Homo sapiens: one gene and its partner. The protein of the gene in region 1 interacts with the protein of each later gene in a pairwise test. Each region holds a gene or a part of one and is shown on either strand. Other genes may lie near its edges.

Region 1 (7,802 bases):
GCTCGGCCCTCTAGCCGGGGAAGGTGGGCCCGGCCCAGCACAACCTTCTGCCAGCAGACCCTGCCCGGACCTCGGCCACCTAAAATAACCCTCACCTCCATTTTCTTCCACCCCCACCCAACGCGGAGCATCCACTCAGGCGAAATTGGGGACAATTTTAGACTCTGGGTGCGGAGGGTCGGAGCCAGTGATAGAAGCTGCGTGCACCACCGTGCTCCCAGGCGTCCCTCCGAAGGCGCTCCCTGGACGCACTTCACATATTACTCCTCATCTTCTAAATACGTATTGTTTTAATGTTTATCACCTCCAACAAAAGGGAGATGGATAGGCTTGATATTCCTAATTAGGAACTTTGCGGAAAACCTTGTGTTTTTGTAGCCATTCCACCATGACAACAAAGCGATTAAGATGTTTTCCATCTACTGAATACCTTTTTAAATTGCGATATTTTATGGTCCGGGTTCTAAAACGTCTTATTTGCAGACTATTTTGTGTTTGATTTAATCTATAACCGAAAACATAATGTATTAAGTGAATACATATTTGCTCAGCTGATAAGCTTTTTTAATATTTATTCGGAGAGCTTTTGCATTGTAAATAAATGGGTCTACACAAAGAGTTCTCTTTGTCTGGCAACTACATACAAAGGCGTTTGGGGCTCCCTTCCCTCTGGGGATCGCCAGCTCTCTCCCCGGGTCTAACAAATAGCTCGGCTCCCAAGCCCCGATCCCGGCCTGCAAAGCGAGCGCCCGGCCGCCAGGGCCCGGAGAGTGCTCTGGCGAGGGGGCTGCGAGCGCAGGGGTCAGGGGAGGGGCTGCCCGGGCTGGACTAGGGACGTGGGGGCCCCCAGCCCCGGCCGGCGCCTCCCGAGCCCCGGAGGGCGCCGGGCGGGACAAAGGGAAAGAAGGAAAGGGAGGGAGGTCAGAAACCTGCAGCTTCAAAGGCGCCGAAGGCCGGAGAGGGGCCGGGGGCTGCGCACGCGGGGGTGCCAGGCTTCCTGGCGGCCTCCAGGGAGTCGTGTGTGCTGTGCTTTTGTTTTGTGGTTGTTTTTTTTTTTTTTTTTCTCTCCAATAAGAAATTTCAAAGTTGAGAAAGCGCGAGCTGCCGGCGATTCTCGGGACGCGGGCTCGGCTACGAAGCAACAATTTTAATCTCCCACCCCCTGCGGGCGGATCGCAGGCCCGATTGTTCCTTTCTCACCAGCCTGCTCGACTTTTTAAGCAAACAGGAGGTGGATTACTGTCGCCTGCCTGCGCCGCCACGGCTCTGACCGGATTGGAGAGAGCTTTTCTTTGTGTTCTCTCCTCCCGGGGAGAGGCCGCGCCGCGCCTCCGCGTCTGCCCGCGCCGGGCTTCGGGGGCCTGGGGAGCCTGAGGCGGCCAGGAAGTGGGGCGAGGAAGGGCGGCCACACGGCCCGAGCTGGGAGTCCCACAGTCCCGCAGCGGCGACGCCGCCACCCGCCGAGTGCCGAGGCCCGGGGCCCACTCCCAGCCCAGCTCCAGGAGAGGCCGCGCCGGAGGACCGCGAGGACGGCGCCGCAGCGCCAGGTCGGGCTGAGGTAAGGGAGGAAATGGAGCGAAAAGTGGCGGCGGGCAGAGGGCCCCGGGCGGGCGGAGAATCGCTGACGAGGGCATTTCGGAAGGAACTGAACCTAGGAGCACAGGGCTCCCTCCCGGGAAGGCAGGGCGTGACCCTGGAGCCGCCGGTCCCTCTTGCCGCGGCCCCAGGCGTGGCTGGCGCGCTCCAGGATCTGGAGCTTCTACAAGTTTGCTTTGTTTCCTGCTTTTGCATCTAAAAACCCGCTCTCTCCTCGCCCGCCTGCCGGAGACCAGGACTCTGGCCCGTCTGCCTCCCTCCGGCGTCGTCTCCGGGAGCGCGGGCGCGGTGGGGCCTGCAGGCCGGGCTGGGACCAGGCGCGCCTTGGGGCGCGAGTGGCTCGGCCGTCGCCGCAGAACCCGCTCCCTGCGAAACAGCCGCACCCGCTCCCTGGGAGAGTCATGAGAACTGGGGTCGCGCCTGACCCCCGCGCCCGAAGAAAACCAGCCCGCGGACCCCGCCACACGGGCCGTGACCCGAGCCCCGCGCGCCGTCCCGAACGCGCGCGGTGAAAACGCCCCGCTGCGCCGGCCTTGCTCGGTCCCCCTCCTCCACCCCCACTTCTCCGGAAAAAAAAAATTCTGAATTGGGAACGAAGACCCGAAAAACTCGCCATGACCATTCCCCTCCCCGGCCCCTAGCTTCGGCCCGGAAGGCCCCTCAGGGCAGCGGCCGTGGGTACCACGACCCGGCCAGTTCCCCTCGCCGCGGACCGACCGGGCAGGGCCAACCCAGGACTGTTCCGGGGAGGGGAGCAGGGTAGGGGAGCGAATGTTGGGGTTCGTTCGTGGGTCACCCAGAACTGGGCGCACGCTGGCGGCGCCCGGACTTCGCCTACTGTCCGCCCGGTGCCACCCGCGCGGCTCGCGCCAGACGCAGCCTGGCGGTCCCTGTCCTGTCTTCGAGTATTTGTTTTTAATGCTGGGTGTCGATCGAGACAACAAGCGCTCAGAGCAAAGCAAGGATGCATTACGGGGGTAATTTTAAACCGATCGATAAGATTTTTCAGAGAAAAAAAAATCGCTCATAGTCCATATTTTTTAAGAAAAAAAAAAGCCTCAACATTTTAACGGATTTTGTTAAAAGGGAAGATATATACTTCTTAACATCACAATCCTGAATTTCTTTTGCTAAAAAAAATGTAAAACCCCAAAGCCAGAATAAAAAATAAAATAATAATAAAAATACAAAAACAAAAAAAAAATGAAAGCAATTTCAGTTACTTACTGGAGGCTGTTTCCTGGATACAACTGAATGCAATACAATTAAATCAGTAAATGTGACTTTGTTTTGTATTCCTATTGGTATTTTCAATGTGCTGACTGTTGCACTGTAAATGCACCGCTTCCACAACAACGACTCTAGCGAGCCCATCCAGAGCGGCTCTCAAACCTGCAGCCTGGCGCGGCGAGCCACGGGCCCTGCATACTAATAAGCTCGTGCCACTCAGCCCGGAACAGCCAGCGCGCTGATTGGCCGCGCAGCCCTCCACGGCCGGGAGCTCGTGCCACTCATTCGGCGTAAACAGGCCTCCCAATAGGCTGGCGCCGGGCCAGGGAACTGCCAATCAGGAAGCAGCGGGGCTACTACCAAGCCCGATGGCGCCTAATTCAAGCCCGGCGACTGCGCAGCTCCTCTGCGCAGATCATTGCTGCTGAATGGGAATGTGGTGGCGCAGGGCGGGAGAGGGAGCTGGAGCGAGCGAGTGCGCGTGTCCCGGCGGAGGGGGAGGCGTAGACACAGACACAGACACACACACACACATATATGTTTAATCCAGCAGGTCTAACGTTTGGCTTCTGCCGCACAGAAGGCCAAGGGAAGAAACACCACCACCCCTTAAAAGTAGCTGCTTTTTCTCCCTGGAATCTGTCTGGCAGGTGGCAGGTAGGCCAGACCTCCAAGCCCAGAGGCCTCCCCAGGTTGCCTGGCCCATCTACCGCTCTGAAGCTGCTGCCTGCCCGGACCCGAGCTCGCGGATGCACGCACGCACGCCCGCTGCTTGGGCAGCAAAAGCTTTGAATAGCCCGTCCGGCTCTCTCCTCCCCATGACCTGGGGATCAGACCCTGGGAAGTGAGTTCTGAGTCTCCAGCCGTCTACATTACTGGCTCTCAATTTTATCTCCCTCTGCCACACTTTGCAACAGAGCAGCTACTAAAATGAAAATCAGGGATTTATTGAGAAGACAAGGATTGCCCTTTCTTCATCTACACCTAGATTTAGAAAATATTTTCAGTTTGGTAATGGGGGAAGCGGGTATGGTGTGGTAAACCATGTATAGTATTTCTCAATGCTGCTCCCTGTCTGCCTATCTGCTAAATCCTCACTCCAACTAAAGCAAGCCACTGAACAATTTTTATCGTAATCAGATGCAAACCACTTCTAAAATATTCCGCAAACAAATATTTCTGTTAGAATTTGGTTTCCCACCCAAATGCTATTTATTCTCAGGGAGTCGAGGTGATGTCTTAGTGGCGATGGATACATTTATTTTTGCTCCTCTTTCTCCATGTGAATCTCTGCCTCCCCCTCTGGGGGAAAAAAGGATATTTAAACTAGGAGCCAACTGACAGATTCACACGCATTCGAAATTCTCCACCGTCTCATTCCGGCAGGGACACGAAAGAGTTAAACTCAAAGCCTGTTGTCTCTCTGTTTCCCCGCCCCCACTCCCGCTCCCGCGGGACCGCTGGGATTGGTTGGCACTCCGCCAGTGGACTGTCCATCACCGAGTGTAAACAAGGCGCTGATTGGCTGTTGTCCAGTCCGCACTGGGCCTCCTGAAAAAAGCAATTACTGGCTCCGCGGTTTCAAGGCGGCCCAAGGCCGCTTGATGAAAGGAGATAAGCTGGGGACCGTTTCCAGGATCCCCGCGGGCCGACCGGGGCAGCCCGGGAGCCGAGGTGCGGCGGAGAGCCCGCGGATCAAAGGAATCTGGAGAGAAAGGGGAAGCGGGCGGCCGGCCCCGGCCGGCCTTCCCCCCCGCAGGCCACGCCGACCTGGGGTGGGGGGCTGCGGGCCGCGGGCGGGGACTCCGGGATTTCCCGCCTGCCTGAGTCGGGGCCTACGCCGGCGCCCGCTTCGGGCGGCTCGGCCCGGAGGGGAGCTCCGGAGAGCCCGGGGCTCGCAGGTAAGCACCGGCGCTCCGCGGGCCGGGCCGGGGACGCAGGACAAGGCGCGGGGCCCACCCCGGCTGGCTCGGGAGTGGCGGTCGCGCGGGCCCGGCTCCCGTCTCCGGCGTCTCCCGGCTCCGGCGGCCGGGACCCCCCGCGGCCGAGCCCCTGGCCAGGCCCCAGGCCGGCGCCTTCGGAAGCGACGTCTGGCGGGCCGCGGGGCACGAGGGGGAGAGCCGGGAAGCGTAAATCCCCGAAGCGCGCGGAGATCCGATTAGCGCGCGGCTATTCATTAGGCTGGGGGCGATTGAATTAGGTCCCTGGGCGCGGTCGCCGGCTGGGGGTGTGTGGCGCCGACCCCCGGGCTCTTGCCGTGGCCTCGGGAGGCTGGAGCAGCGAGCAGCGGCCCCAGCGAGTGTGTCGGGGAAGCGGGTGCCTCCGGGTCCCGGCCCCGCGGGTGCAGGCGGAGGCTGCCCGCTTCCCGCGTACACCGAGGACGGCCGGCCCGGCTCCGGAGAAATGGCGCTTGAGAAAGGAGGGGAGGGGAAGGTTCCCGGACCCTGGGCAGGGACCCGTCGCCGGGGACCCGCGGAGCCCTCCGGGGATGGAGGAGGCGCGAGCTGGAAGCGGCGCGCGAGCCCGAGCGCGGGGCTAACACCGTGGGGCCCAGTCTCTCCTGGCTCGGGTAAGTGGACGCGCCCCGAGGCCCCGGGTCCACGCAGGGCGCCCCTCGCAGACGGCGCATTTCCTACTCTCCTAAGGAACCGAGTTCCCATCACTGCCTCCGATGAGCCTGTTTCCGGATCAGGAACCTTTTTCAAGTTAATTTTTAAAGCCTCATTTGAATTTTTTAATATAGGAAAATACGTATACGAGAAAAATCTTGGATGCAACAAAAAGAACACCGTGGCCACCCGTGGTGTCCCAGAAGTTGCTCTGAGCTCCTCGCATCAGGGCAGGTGCTCCACCTCTAACCGCCCTGTGGGGGAACGGGAGGCCCCAAGCCCCTGGGAGTCCTGGTCTCCTCTAGAGTGTGTTGGAAGGACAGCCGCTGGAAAGGCCCCTCAGAGCCCCTAAACCAGCCTCCCCTCCCCCGTGGGCAGATTGTTCGAGGGTCCTGGAGCCTGAATGATGGGCCCTCGGCTTGCCCACCCCCATCCCCAGTCATCAATCACCATTTGAGAAATGCCCACTGCCAGGGACATGGGAGGGCAGAGGGTAGCTCGCGGGTGCGTGGCCCCTATCTCCTCAAGCTGGTTTAGACCCTTCTGGCTCAGCCTCACCAGATTCCTAGGATGAGCACTGGCTTCAAATCCCCCAAGTGCTGGTCCCTTCGTGTCCCCGAAAGAGGCTGCTCGCGTGGGCAAAGGCCCCGAGGCGTCGAGTGCGCCTTCCAGGGCAGTGCGGAAGCTCCCTGCCCTCCTCCTTCCTCCCCACTTCTGCCTCCTCCTCCCCCAGTGTTCACTTGAAGCAAATTCTAGTGGGCTTTTTTTTTTTCAATACTGTTTCAAAACAGTTGTTACAGCAAATAACTGCAGACGGGTCTGCTGGACGCGGTGGAGAGGGGCTGGCAGCTGCCCAGCACAGGCGCCTGGCCGCTGGGCAGCTCCCGCAATACCAAAATAAGCTCCCGAGTTCCCCTGGAAGACTTGGGCCGCCGGGAGCTCAGGCTGGCGATCTGCTCAGAGGAAACCTCCCTACTTTCCTTTTTTACTCTTCCTGCTGTCCAGAGCTAACAAATGTTTTTAATTTCAGAGGAACATGGTGTGGGGATCTGCAGACTTGCCTTCCACTGGGGAGAGGGCCAGCGAGGGGACAGAGGGGGAGGAAAGGAGAGGGGATAATAGACCCGAGGTCAGTGTTGATGCTGGAGGGCCCAGGTCTCTGAAGTTCCTGCAGCTTTGCAGGTGAGCGGGCTGCAAGTGAGGCTAGGCCTGTGGACACCCAGTGGGGCCTGGAACAGTGCCAGGAGTGGCCTTGAACCCCACCTTGATCCCTCTCCAGCAGGATCTGGAGTCACTTCCATGGGCCTGGCATACACCACTCCAGATTTGCCCTCTGGCCTGGGGAGCAGATAACCCCCCGCCCCACATAACCAGCTGCGCTCCTACACCTAGCAGGCCGGCTCACATCACCCTTTAACGCACACTATATTCACACACACACTTGTGCACAGTCTTGAATGTGTGCCCACACATCTGCCTGCACACACTCATGTGCCCACATGTGAATCACTTGGAAGTGTACACAAAACCAAACCCACAGCACAGATGGGCAGACAGGTGAGCCTCGTGCAGCATGTGACACTCCCACATGCACAAGACATGTGTGCAGAGGCATATCACACACGCAGAAGCACTCCCGAGAACTGCCTTCTCCCTTTCAGCCTAGGGGCCCCTGTTCCCCCACAACCGGGCCCAGCCCTGGAGCCCCCTCCAGCACTCCTCTCCCACCCCCACGCTCCCCAAGAGCAGCAGATGTAGGTCTCCCGGCTCCCAAACCTCTGAGATGCTGCTCTGTCTGAAATCATCATATAAATAATCATTTTTTAATACAAGGGGGTGGGGGTGTCAGGCAAGTTCCATGAAATTGTGAATTAGCCGCTGCTCCAAATAAATGCCTGCTTCGGCCCGAGAGCAGCCGCGCTGCGCCCGCTGCGCCCCCAATAATCGTGTGTTGGGTATCTCTCCATTGTTCCCTGGGCCATTAGTCAAAGGGCAAATTAGAAACAATTTCTTGACGACAAAAATTGACTCTTAATTCTTCCCACCAGAGGCGCAGGGGGACAAGTCCAGAGGCCAGGCCTGAGGCTGGGGCTGGCGGCAGGAGGGGTAGGCGGGGTAGAGGTGGGGTAGAGGTGGGGGATCTAAGATGGTTCACAGCACAGAGACCTCCCTCAACTGGAGGGCAGCAGCAGCTCACCCCCACCCCAGAATCAGTGTTCCAGAGGACAGCTGGGGGCAGGGGGTTAGGAACAATCCCACTCCCTCCTGGAAGAGGTCCTGACCCCCCACCCCACCCATCTGCCTGTACGGGTCCCTCTGCTATCGACTGGGGCGAGTTCTTTTCATGAGGGCCTTGCCTGGTGCCTG
Region 2 (7,034 bases), on another chromosome or scaffold:
CACCCGTGGACATAGAGGGAGTAGTGGTGCCGATTCATATCTGCAAAGGCAGTTTCTATGGGTAAATTGCCAACTAAAGATCCAAAGGAGAAATTAAAGCTGTTTCTTGAATGGATTTTGAAGACACAATTTCATCTGCATAAATGAACTCTTCGGCTAAGCCAAGGCAGGGCTTAGAAACAAATACACTTGGGCTTTCCTGAGAGGCGGAGCCTGTGATCACCGTGGACCCCACTGAGCAACAACAGCTAATACCCAAATGCCCAGGCCGTGGCTCTAGGGAACCAAGTGCCCCAGGCACACAGCATGGCACATGGCCTACGAGCACCAGGCTGGCAGGGGACCCTGGGAAAGGAGAGGGAGCCTGCCGCTGGCACCCACCCTACTGGACACTGGGGCCTGGCATCGCTTGCAGAGCTATTACCCTACCTGTTTTATCAGAACTGCAAAGAATTGTCTCCTTCTTCCTGCCGAATGGCCCATGTCTCATCCACACCGAGATGGTGAACGGCTCTTTGGGGCTGACCGACACGACGCCATCCGGGATCCTCACTGCCTGGGTGCCGTTGAACTCAAACACCTGGTCGCTGTCGTGGCCATTGTCGGTGGGCAGGCCCATGGTCCAGTTGAGGGATCCACTCGGGGATGGCAGCAGCTCGGCAGTGCCCGCGGCCGCACCTGAAGCCACAGTGCTCGGTGAAACTCATGTGAGGAGCCAGAGGTCCCGCGCACCTCAAGCCCCCAGGCACGTGCTTGTCTTACACTTAGGCAATCTGCTGGCTCCAGTTTACTTTTTTTTTTTCTTTCGAGACAGAGTCTTGCTTTGTCCCCAGGCTGGAGTACAGTGGCGCGATCTCGGTTCATTGCAACCTCCACCTCCCGGGTTCAAGCTGTTCTCCTGCCTCAGCCTCCCGAGTAGCTGGGATTACAGGCGCGCCCCATTAAAACTGGCTAATTTTTGCATTTTCAGGAGAGCCGGAGTTTCACCATGTTGGCCAGGCTGGCCTGGAACTCCTGACCTCGTGATCCGCCTGACTCGGCCTCCAAAAGTGCTGGGATTACAGGCGTGAGCCACCACGCTTGGCCCTTTCAGTTTACTTCTCTTCAAAAATCAGGGTTTTAAATTACAAAAATAAAAATAACAACCATGGATTTGTTTAAGGAAGGGAAAGGGCCAGGCGTGAACCCGGGAAGCGGAGCTTGCAGTGAGCCGAGATCGCACCCCTGCACTCCAGCCTGGGCAACAGAGCGAGACTCCGTCTCAAAAAAAAAAAAAAAAAACAAAAAGGAAGGGAAAGGAAGCATTTCTTGTAATCTGATTCAAATTATACCATTTTAGTATAAACACCCAGTCCTCCTTTGGTAAATATACACAAAAATGATGCGTTTTCTTAGAAAAATGGAGTCCTGGCAGGGCTTGGTGGCTCACACCTGTAATCCCAGCACTTTGGGAGGCCAAGGCACACAGATTGCTTGAGCCCAGGAGTTGGAGACCAGCCTGGACAACATGGCAAAACCCTGTCAATACAAAAAACACAAAAATTAGCCAGGTGTGGTGGTGCATCCCTGTAGTCCCAGCTACTTGGGAGGCTGAGATGGGAGGATCACTTGAGCCCAGGAGGTTGAGGCTGCAGTGAGCTGTGACTGTGCCACTATACTCCAGCCTGGGCGAGTGCGACCCTGTCTCAAAAATATATAAACAAATACAATAAAAGTGGAGTCCTGCTATGTATGTGCATAATACATATATATTCCTAGCAATATTCTTCTATCATGTAATTTAAACTATCTGAATAGTTGTTTTTTTTTTTTTTTTTTTTTTGAGACAGGGTCTCCTCTCTCGCCCAGGCTGCAGTGCAGTGGTGCAGCGTTGGTTTACCGCAGCCTTGACCTCCTGAGCTCAAGCAATCCTCCCACCTCAGCCTCCCAAGTAGCTGGGACCACAGGTGTGTGCCACCATGCCCGGCTAATTTTTGTGTTTTTGTAGAGACGGGGTTTCGCCATGTTGTCCAAGCTAGTCTCCAACTACTGGGCTCAAGCGATCCATCTGCCTCAGACTCCCAAAGTGCTGGGATTATAGGTGTGAGCCACCGCGCTCGGCCTGAATAGCATTTCATTGTACAGATACAGCATCACCTACTGACCAGCCTCCCAGGTGGGCACAGAGGCTGTCCCTAACCTTTTCCTATTATAAACCTCACCTGCATGCACAGCTTTATGTGTCTCCATGATTATTCCCTTAAAATAAATTCCTAGAAATGAAATTACTAAGTCAAAAAACATAAAAAATGTTTTCCAACCATTCTTATGTATTGCCATGTTCAAATTAAAAAAATTTTTTTTTGTCCACAGGAAAAGATTTTGCAAGCTCCTTCTTGACTAAGCTATTACTCGGAGCAGCAGGCCTTGGCTGGACCAGCCTGGCCTCTTGAGTAACAGAAGACCTTGGTCCAAATCTTAGCTCCTGAAGCTAGACGTGGTGGCTTGCGCCTGTAATCCCAGAACTTTGAGAGGCTGAGGCAGGCAGATCAACTGAGGTCAAGAGTTCAAACCAGCCTGGCCAATATGGTGAAACTCTGTCTCTACAAAAATACAAAAATGAGCCAGGCATGATGGCAGATGCCTGTAATCTCAGCTACTTGGGAGGCTGAGGTGGGAGAATCACTTAAACACAGGAAGTGGAGGCTGCAGTGAGCCAAGATAGCACGATTGCATTCCAGCCTGGGCGACAGTGAGACTCTGTCTCAAAAGAAAAAAAAAAACCACACACACACACTAGAACCTCAGCTCCTGAATATGTGGGCTTGGGCAAGCTACTTAACCTGCTTTAGTCTCAATTGTTTAATTCCTCTGTAACAAGGTCAATACCCACCTACTTCGTAGACTTGTTGGGAACATTAAGCTAAAACACACATAGAAGTACCTGGAGTAAGGCCAGGCGCAGTGGCTCATGCATATAATCCCAGCACTTTGGGAGGCCGAGGTGGGTGGATCACTTGAGGTCAGGAGTTGGAGACGAGCCTCGCCAACATGGTGAAATCCCATCTCTACTAAACATACAAAAAGTAGCCAGGCATCATGGCACATGCCTGTAATCCCAGCTACTTGGGAGGCCGAGGCAGGAGAATCGCTTGAACCCAGGAGGCAGACGTTGCAGTGAGTGAGATTGCGCCACTGCACTCCAGCCTGGGCGACAGAGGGAGACTGTCTCAAAAAAAAAAAAAAAAAAAAAAAAAAAGTACCTGGTGCATAGTAAGCACTCAAATTATTTCTATTCTTCCTAACTTTATTCTGCTGAAAAAAAATTCACTTAATACCATGAAATGAGAGACGGAATAAATTTTATATATTATACTTACATGCATGGTTTAAAACAGAAAATGTGCCAGACCTCCTTACTTAAATATATTTAGGTGACAATTATGAATATTTGGATTCAGAGTTGCCAAACACCCCCATATGCTCATCATTGGACTGTGGCAGCATAATGTCTAGTTTTCTACTTTGGTTTATTTACCACATGATAATTTTCTTCTTATTTATTGTTTTTTTTCTAAGACAAAGTCTAGCTTTGTCACCTAGGCTGGAGAGTAGTGGCACACTCTTGGCTCACTGCAGCCTCCTGGGTTCAAGCAATTCTCCTGCCTCAGCCTCCCAAGTAGCTGGGAGTATAGGCACCTCGCACCACGCCTGGCTAATTTTTTATTTTTAGTAGAGCGGGGGTTTCATCATGTTGATCAGGCTGGTCTTAGACCCCTGACCTCAAGTGATCTGGATAATTTTCAATTATAAACCAGTGGCCGGGCGCGGTGGCTCATGCCTGCAATCAGCACTTTGGGAGGCCGAGGTGGGCGGATCACGAGGTCAGGAGATCGAGACCATCCTGGCTAACACGGTGAAACCCCGTTTCTACTAAAAATACAAAAAAATTAGCCGGGCATGGTGGCAGGTGCCTGTAGTCCCAGCTACTCGGGAGGCTGAGGCGGGAGAATGGTGTGAACCCAGGAGGCGGAGCTTGCAGTGAGCCGAGATGGCGCCACTGCACTCCAGCCTGGGTGACAGAGTGAGACTCTGTCTAAAAAAAAAAAAAAGAAAACCAGTAACCTAAATCTCATGGTTGTTATCAGGCTAGTGAAAAGACTCATCAGTTTAAGAAAATGCTCCCTGAAAAGCTGTTTCACAAAAGCTTTTTGAAACACAAAAGACCCTTCCAATTTATGAAGACGCTGCTTCATTTAGTGGGATTTTATCACCAGTCAACTAAATGTTCTTCCCTCAACATCTTCCATGACAGCCATCCATACCTCACCTCTTCTTCATTTAGATAAACCAGAAAAATATCCGCAGCTGACAGTAAAGAGAGACCTAGCCTTCTGGTGGGTTTCCCAGTAATTCTGTCTCTCAATTTCTCCACACAATATTGTGATATAGAAAATCTATTGAGATTCTAAGTTAGATGTGGCTATCTTTAGTTCTGATTTTCTACTTCATGTTTGTCAAAAGCTATTGTATTACCTATATTTTTCCTTCAGTTCTTTTTGAGACAGGTTCTCACTCTGTCATCCAGGCTGGAATGCAGCGGCGTGATCTTGGCTCACTGCAACGTCCACCTCCTGGGCTCAAGCGATCCTCCTCCCTCAGCCCCCCAAGTAGTTGGGACTACAGGCGTGCACCGCCATGCCCGGCTAGTTTTTGTTTTTTTTGTAGAGACAGGGTTTTCTCCATGTTGGTCAGGCTGGTCTCGAACTCCTGACCTCAGGTGATCTGCCCACCTCGGCCTCCCAAAGTGGTAAGATTATAGGCATGAGCCCCCATGCCCTGGCCTTTGTCTTCAATTCGTAAGTAAACATCTCATTTCATGTAAAACTCACTCCATGTACTCCTATAGAAGCCCTTTTTGGATGATTCTCAGAGTATGCTGGAGAAATACTTCCTTCAAATCAGTGGTTCTTTTTTTAAAACAGGGTCTCACTCTATTGCCCAGGGTGGAGTGCAATGGTGCCATCACGGCTCACTGCAGCCTCAACCTCCCGGGCTCAGGTGATCCTCCCGCTCAGCCTCCCAAGTAACTGGAACTACAGGTCCATGCCACCATCCCCAGTTAATTTTTCAATTTTTTGTAGAGATGGGGTATCGCTGTGTTGCCCAGGCTGGTCTCAAACTCCTGGGCTCAAGTGATCTTCCCACCTCGGCCTCCTAAAGTGCTGGAATTACAGGTATAAGCCACCACATCTGGCCACCAGTGGTTCTTAAAATGCACATATACACAACATGTTGAATAGACGTTTAGGAGTTGATGTCCACCCCCTGCCCCACCCCCGAAGCCCATCCAGTATGAAAACTAGCCAGCAAGGCAGCAAAGTTCACTTCAGAAATGCAGATTCTCTGTCACAGTTTATAATTATGAACACAACACACACAAGTATTTCCAGTTGTAAAGGTCCCTCCCACCTTCACCAAAGCCAGCCGGATGCAAGAACGCCTGGTCTCCTTACCACAGAGCCGGTGGAGGGACTTCTCTGAGTAGGTGTCTCGGTCGCAGCCTTTCCCTATGTGGCTGGTTTCTAGCTCCACTGTGGCCTGTACTGAGGCGACTGGCTCGTCACATGTCTCCAGGTGGATATTTGGAAAGACGGCCAACGCGCCGGTGCCCGGCTCATACTCAATCCTGTTGTTCCATCCTGTGTTGGTCCACAAGTCAGCAGGGGAAGAGAGAAGGAAAACACACACTCTAGGTTGCTGCCGCATACATCAGTTTTAAGAGCAGATGTGAGCGCAGGGGAGAGAATGAAGCTCACCTTGCCACCCAGGGGTGCAGGTGGGCTTAATGCTGATCTTCACCAAAACATCTTCTGTGGCTCTTTTCTTCCCACAGTCATAGGCAGTGACGGTCAGCTTATATTGATGTTCTTTCCCGTAGTTTAATTTCTCTGTGTTTTTTATATAACCTTACAGAGGGCAAAAACAACAGTGAGAGCCAAAACCCATGCTGGTTTTACTTTTGTTGTCCTAGGCGGAAAGACAAAATGCATAGGCTTTAAGCCCTGTAAATACTCAGCCAGAAATAAACATATGCTTGGGATGCTTAACCCTCAACCTGTCCTCCCTGAGCCCTAACACGCACTAAATCCATCCTGAAGAGTTTCAACAGAAGAGACGGAGCTACACAGCTCAGTCTCCACTTACTCTCACAGTGTTACATTGGGCTTTACATTAAGATTTAACTGTTTACATACATTCAGAGGATTAAAAAATAATAATAATTCAAGTACCTCAAATATTAAATATAAGATCGCTGATCAAACATTTACTATATTAAAAGAAAGAGAGATTTCCTACCCCCACCTGCTTAGAACAGAAGCCTGCTTTTTGAACGTGGTGAGTATAGATCTCTGGAAAGTGTTTGCAATGTCCATAATTCCATCAAAGATTCTAGACCGTGCATTGATTAACAATGGAAACACTGTATTATCTTTTTTTTTCTTTTTGGAACAGGGTCTCGTTCTCTTGCCCAGGCTGGAGTGCAGTGGCCTGATCTCGGCTCACTGCAACCTCTGCCTCCTGGGTTCAAGCGATTCTCCCACTTCAGCCTCCCAAATAGCTGGGACTACAGGTGTGTGCCTGCAGTCCCAGCTACTAGCGAGGCTGTGGCGGGAGGATCCCGTGAGCCCAGGAGTTCGAGGTTACAGTGAGCAGTGACTGCACCACTACATTCCAGCCTGGGCGACAGAGCAAGACCTTCCCTCAAACAAAAAAAAAAAAAAAAAAGATGTCACAGGAGATTCTAACTTAATGGAGAACATGGCCAGGCGCGGTGGCTCACACATGTAATCCCAGCACTTTGGGAGGCCAAGGTGGGCGGATCACCTGAGGTCAGGAGTTCAAGACCAGTCTGGCCAACATGGTGAAACCCTATCTCTACTAAAAATACAAACAACAACAACAAAAAATTAGCTGGGCGTGGTGGTGGGCACCTGTAATCCCAGCTACTCGAGAGGCTAAGGTAGGAGAATCACTTGAACCCGGGAGGCAGA

The links. Proteins that work in one complex are often made in the same cells at the same time.
Region 2: the proteins of BAHCC1 (region 1) and CLSTN1 interact in a two-hybrid assay, tested with the Homo sapiens proteins (one study listed by BioGRID and IntAct).

The regions. Positions count from the first base shown.
Region 1 is NC_000017.11:81,390,657-81,398,458, reverse strand, and holds the start of BAHCC1 (BAH and coiled-coil domain-containing protein 1), read right to left. Parts: upstream 3,003-7,802; 5' UTR 2,824-3,002; intron 1-2,823.
Region 2 is NC_000001.11:9,743,966-9,750,999, forward strand, and holds part of CLSTN1 (calsyntenin-1 isoform 1 precursor), read right to left. Parts: intron 5,949-7,034; coding exon 5,799-5,948; intron 5,682-5,798; coding exon 5,496-5,681; intron 679-5,495; coding exon 430-678; intron 41-429; coding exon 1-40. UniProt on the Homo sapiens protein: Postsynaptic adhesion molecule that binds to presynaptic neurexins to mediate both excitatory and inhibitory synapse formation.